Regions from separate parts of the Homo sapiens genome. Here region 2 is linked to region 1. The links come from fine-mapping of genetic effects on gene expression. Tissue or cell type: whole blood. Region 1 holds a variant in brackets; the other region holds the start of a gene. All regions are shown on one strand. Distances are from middle to middle.

Region 1 (2,916 bases):
GCAAAAACACGTCCATCACTGATCACAGTTTACCCTACAGAGGCCCAAAGCCACTGAGGAGACTGAGAAGATGGCACCAGCCTGGAGATGAGGGTGGGCATGTTCTTCTCCTTAGCACCCATGAAGGCCCACCGTCTATATTCAGCCTGGCCCAGGCTGCATGCTTTTCCTTCTGAATCCCCGAAGACTGTATGGTGCTGGCCACCAGAGAAGCCTACCTGGACTTGGTAGAGTTCTTTTTTTTTTCTTTTTTTTTTTTTTTTAGACGCAATCTTGCTCTGTCACCCAAGCTGGAGTGCAGTGGCATGGTCTCGGGTCACTGCAAGCTCCGTCTCCCTGGTTAACGCCATTCTCCTGCCTCAGCCTCCCAAGTAGCTGGGACTACAGGTGCCCACCACCACGCCCAGGTAATTTTTTTTGTATTTTTAGTAGAGACGGGGTTTCACCTTGTTAGCCAGGATGGTCTCAATCTCCTGACCTTGTGATCCGCCCGCCTCAGCCTCCCAAAGTGCTGAGATTACAGGCGTGAGCCACTGCGCCTGGCCTGGACTTGGTAGAGTTCTTGAAGGATCCCAGGTTCTGGGGTATGAAGCAAGATTCTGTGCCTGGGGTTCCAAGCTGATGGTTGTTGAAGAGGCCAAAGCCATATTCTGTGTATGTGCCCTTTATAGGGGATGGAATGGTGAGGCAGGTGCTACAGAAGGGCATCAGGTCCCAGCTTCCCCTGAATTTCAGCATCATATCTGGGGGACCAGGAATCATGCCCTGTCGGCCATCACGGTTGGCACATAATTCAAGCACAAGGCCCAGATGGCCTTGCTCCCACAGCACAAGGTATCTAGGTCACTGTCAGCTGTCAGCATCACCAAGTGGCCATTTCCTGAGGCCAACTTCACCGTGGGCATGTCCAGCTGCACTTGCACAATCATCATGCTCTTCTTCATGGGATCTAACAGCCTGATCACACTGTAATTGTTCTGGAAGCAGCCTCAGAGGAAGACATGGCCATCTTCTGTGAGGACCACTATATGACTGTCTCCTGCTGACACCTGTATCAACTTCTCTTGCAGTTCCACTTTTCCGGGGACCATCTCTGAGACCTCCACTGATGCGTCCCTTCCCACGGCACCCTCCTCATTGCAGCCGAAGCACTAGACCTGGCCATTTTGCTTAGACATAATATGGTGTGCCTGTCCCCAGCCTCAGCCTACACAGCATCCTCTTGAACCAGCACCAGCGCTGGCTACTTTTTCTTTTGAATGTTTATTATGCAAATTGGGTCATTCTTGTGATACCCAACTAAATCAAAGTAGAAAGGACAGGTTGGAAAAGCATCAGGGCACATAGCACTGATCCAATAACTGAATTCTCCACAAGCCCAGCTGCTGCAATGGCCTGCTATAGGTAAGATCAGTTTTACCCAGTAGCTGCTGAAATGCCCTGCTGTGACTCTACGACTAGCTTTACCGACTACTGTCACTCACCAATCGGAGCTTGCCAGCTCCCAAAATCTTCTCCAGTGCCAACGAGCTTTCTTTCAAAACCATATGTAATATTTCCCTTTCTAATAAAACTCCTAACCTTCTCTTTGTCCTTCGGACACACTGAAGACCACCCCATCTGTGTGTGTGCACCAAATTGCAATTCTGTGATTCCTAAGGAGAAA[T/C]ATTACATTTAGAGATTTGTCTTTATATTTTTATTTTGACTTTGACGCTCCCTGTCACACTCTCACCCAGCTCCAGTGAGCCTACATTGCCCTGGCCCACTGTCAGCACCAAGCCTGGTTCAGTTTTATGGGACCTCTGTGAGACTGAGGGATGAAGAAGGTGGCCCCGTCAGGTTTTCTGGTCAGGAGGGCTCAGCTGTGGGGGGAGCTAAAAGCATGGCAAGGAGGCAGTGGATCTCACTGTCTGGGTACAAGTGTCCTTCACCTTCTTGCTTTTGGGGATGAAATCTTCTGGGAGTGATCTTCTCTTAGTTATGTACTTGGGTGAAATATTCCTGTCCTCAGCACAGGTTGACCTCAAGGAACACCAGTGCTCACCAGCAGGGCCACCAAATACCCAGAACACATCCTCTGCAGGCCTCGTCCCAACGCTGGATGAGATGAGAAAGGGCATTTATAAGTTCTTAAATGTTTTCTTTTCTTTCTTTCTTTCTTTCTTTCTTTTTTTTTTTTTTTTTGAGAGGGAGTCTCATTCTATTGCCCAGGCTGGACTGAAGTGCCGCGATCTTGTCTCACTGCAACCTCTGCCTCCCAGGTTCAAGCAATTCTCCTGTCTCAGCCTCCCTAGTAGCTGGGACTACAGGTACCTGCCACCATACCTGGCTAATTTTTGTATTTTTAGTAGAGATGGGATTTCACCTTGCTGGTCAGGCTGGTCTAAAACTCCTGACCTCAGGTGATCCACCTCCCTCAGCCTCCCAAAGTGCTGGGATAATAGGAGTGAGCCACCGCGCCTGGCCTCTTTTCTTTTTTTTTTTTTTTTTTGAGACAGAGTCTCGCTCTGTCACCCAGGCTGGAGTGCAGTGGTGCGATCTTGGCTCACTGCAAGCTCTGCCTCCTGGGTTCACGCCATTCTCCTGCCACAGCCTCCCAAGTAGCTGGGACTACAGGTGCCTGCCCCAACTCCTGGCTAATTTTTTTTTGTATTTTTAGTAGAGTCGGGGTTTCACCATGTTAGTCAGGATGGTCTCGATCTCCTGACCTTGTGATCCACCCACCTCGGCCTCCCAACGTGCTGGGATTATAGGTGTGAGCCACCATGCCTGGCCCTTTTCTTTTTCTTTTTTTTTAAATTGAGACAGGGTCTTGCTCTGTCACCCAGGAGAGAGTGCAGTGGCACGAACATGGCTCACTGCAGCCTCAATCTCCCTGGCTCAAGCAATCCTCCCACCTCAGCCTCCTGAGTAGCT
Region 2 (2,916 bases), 59 kb before region 1:
ACCTCTGGGGCTCCAGTGATTCTTTTACCTCAGCCTCCCAAGTAGCTGGGATTACAGGCACGCACCACCACACCCAGCTAATTTTTGTATTTTCAGTAGAGATGGGGTTTCACCATGTTGACCAGGCCGGTCTTGAACTCCTTTCCTCAGGTGATCCATACGTCTCTGTCTCCCAAAGTGCTGGGATTACAGGCATGAGCCACTGTGCCCGGCCTGTTCTTTAGTTATTTAGTGTTATATAATCCTAATACTTGTCAATCACTGAACTCTACCAAGGGAAAGTGTATGTATATAAAAGACCGTTGACCTGAACATAAGAATGAAGTTCCTTTTTTCTTTTTTGTGTGTGCTCTAGATGTCCAGAGAAATTTCTCTAGTAACAAACTATAGAAATGATCCCTGAAAGTATAGTCTTTATAAATAAAGTTCTTGACCATTAAATGACAAGCTAATCAGAGTCTCTTCCTGTCTGTTCCACATACCCATACTGAGCTACAACCTAGTGGTTGCAGAGCACGAAGTTTCTGTTCCCCAACTGAATGTTGATTTTCAAGACTAAATCCTCATGGATTTTAAGTAAAATTCTATGTTTAGGAAAGAAACATTGTGTTACTGAAGAAATGATGCCGCAAATTGACTCTAATTCAAAGGACTTAAATAACAGGTATAGAAGATGCAGATACCAAGCAGCAGTTCCGTGTACTTACCCTGAACAGTAACGATATTGTCTCTGATGGTGCAAATTTTGTTATAACTAATTGGAATAGATCTACTTTTTAAAAACCTTGGCAAATAAGATTCATATTTTCAAAAATCAAAAACATTGTTATAAAGCCTAGGCAATATAGACATAATTATTTTGTTTTTAAATTAAGGGAAGAATAATAAAGAAAATTTTATTACAGAACAACTATGTTACATTTTAGATTTTTCTCTCGATATTAACATTTGCTAAGCGAATGAGCATTAATTTAATATTTCCCTAAAAGTTAAGAACAAAACATAGAAAAGAAGAAAAAACCATTTTACAGCCCTTAAGTAAACTCTGTTTTCCTCTTCTAGGATTGAAAAACTACACTTGTCAAGACTCCTTTTTTTAAAGCAACTTGCGCAAAGTATATTCAATTTTCATCATTTCTACAGAAAAATGAACTAGAACAAATGAAACCCTGTAGGAATAGAGTGGTCGTTGCCACATCCCTTACATTTGCCTCTCCACGGGATTTCTGGCTTTCTTACCTTCTAACTTCTTACGGAGAAGCAGACAGCACTGTGTCGTGAAAATCTTACTGCTGGTTCAAGTCCCAGCAGGCTCTGGTCATTTTCTGAGCAGACGCTGTTCCCTATTCCAGGTCAGGGTACACTATGCTAATGAGTTCTGGCAATGGTCCAATCAAAATCTAGATGCTCTAGGCTCTGGATAGGTAAGAGCAGCCTGGGAGTCACTTAACCAGCCTGATTCTTCCCAGAATGCCAGCAATGTGATGAATATTCTATGATGTGTCTCTGAACTTCCCCCTCCCTTTATGTTATGAGGACATTTGAACTAAAATGGACATTGAAAAGAACCTCATAAGGAAGTACAGATGTTTTTCTTCTTGTGATGTTACAGGTTGGGCCCCAGGCAGACGATTCACAGTAGGTCCTAATTCTCCCACTATTTACCCGGCAGGTAATAGTTCTCTCTCATGTGTGCAAGAGAGAGAAGACAGACAGACAGAGATAGAGAGATATTATGGTGAGGAAATTTACTGGAATAGACAGTGGATAGCCAACATCCTCTATACCAGAAATACTGAAATGCTATCTTAACCCTAGCAATAATGTCCCACTAATTCTAAGTGTTCTGATCCCCTAAAAATATACAATTCTTGGCCGGGCGTGGTGGCTCACACCTGTAATCCTAGCACTTTGGGAGGCCGATGTGGGCGGATCACAAGGTTGGGAGTTCAAAACCAGCCTGGCCAAGATGGTGAAACCCCGTCTCTACTAGAAATACAAAAATTAGCCAGGTGTGGTGGCGAGCGCCTGTAATCCCAGCTATTTGGGAGACTGAGGCAGAGAATTGCTTGAACCCGGGAAGCGGAGGTTGCGTGAGCTGAGATTGCGTCACTGCAGTCAAGCCTGGGTGACAGAGCGAGGCTCCATCTCAAAAAAACAAAAACAAAACAAAACAAAACAACAAAAAAAAACGAACAAACAAAAACCAATTATTTCTTCTAGAGATACCCTCAGTGCTATTCTTCCTTTTAGAGACATCCGCAGTACAGCCTAAATCAGTTCAGTTCATATGTTTTGTTCTAGGTAGTCTGCCAGGCCTTGGCAACACAAGAGAGAATGAAAGCCATTAAGAAGTTCATTCTAGTAGAAAAGATGATTAAAGCTACTAAATAAGGCCGATTTAATTTGATGTATAGAATAAAAGTAATATAAATGAGAAGGCTATTAAGCTGGAGGGAGGAGAACCAAAGGAAACCCACCAAAATAATGCTCGATGAGCCTTTTGAAGGACAAATAGATATTTATCAAGGCGTGAAGGACTGGAAGAGGGTGTTTCGGGGAGTGACAATATCCTGGACAACATGACGAGGGATCAGTACCTGTCAGGAAGGTCCAGACTTTCAAGGATGAGGCTTAGGAGGCAGAGATGAGAAGGCGAGAAGGCAAAAGGCTTGGAAAGCCTCATAGTTGCATTCGGCGGCCCCTAATAGATTTCTCATTCGTCTTTCAGTTCATGAACAAATTCCTTTCCTGCCTGAAGTTTAAGACCCTGCTTCATCTTTTTTTTTTTTTGAAACGGAGTTTTGCTCTTGTTGCCCAGGCTGGAGTGTAATTGCACTATCTCGGCTCACCACAACCTCTGCCTCCCGAGTTCAGGCGATTCTCCTGCCTCAGCCTCCTGAGTAGCTGGGATTA

Evidence for each region. PIP is the estimated chance that this variant, and not a neighbour inherited with it, causes the effect. A credible set is the group of variants that fine-mapping cannot tell apart.
Region 2: it holds the start of GCM1, and the variant in region 1 is the best candidate, but not a certain one, in a credible set for the expression of GCM1 in whole blood (INTERVAL, PIP 0.53).

The regions. Positions count from the first base shown.
Region 1 is chr6:53,206,701-53,209,616 of GRCh38, forward strand. No RefSeq gene overlaps it. Among named protein-coding and RNA genes, the nearest start is that of GCM1, 59 kb to the left of the region's middle. RefSeq lists an enhancer at 965-1,134. The variant T/C (reference allele first, on the strand shown) is at 1,667.
Region 2 is chr6:53,147,515-53,150,430 of GRCh38, forward strand. It overlaps GCM1 (glial cells missing transcription factor 1), which reads right to left and starts at 1,327. Exons shown (of 6, transcript NM_003643.4): 1 at 1,240-1,327. It also overlaps the pseudogene LOC124901513.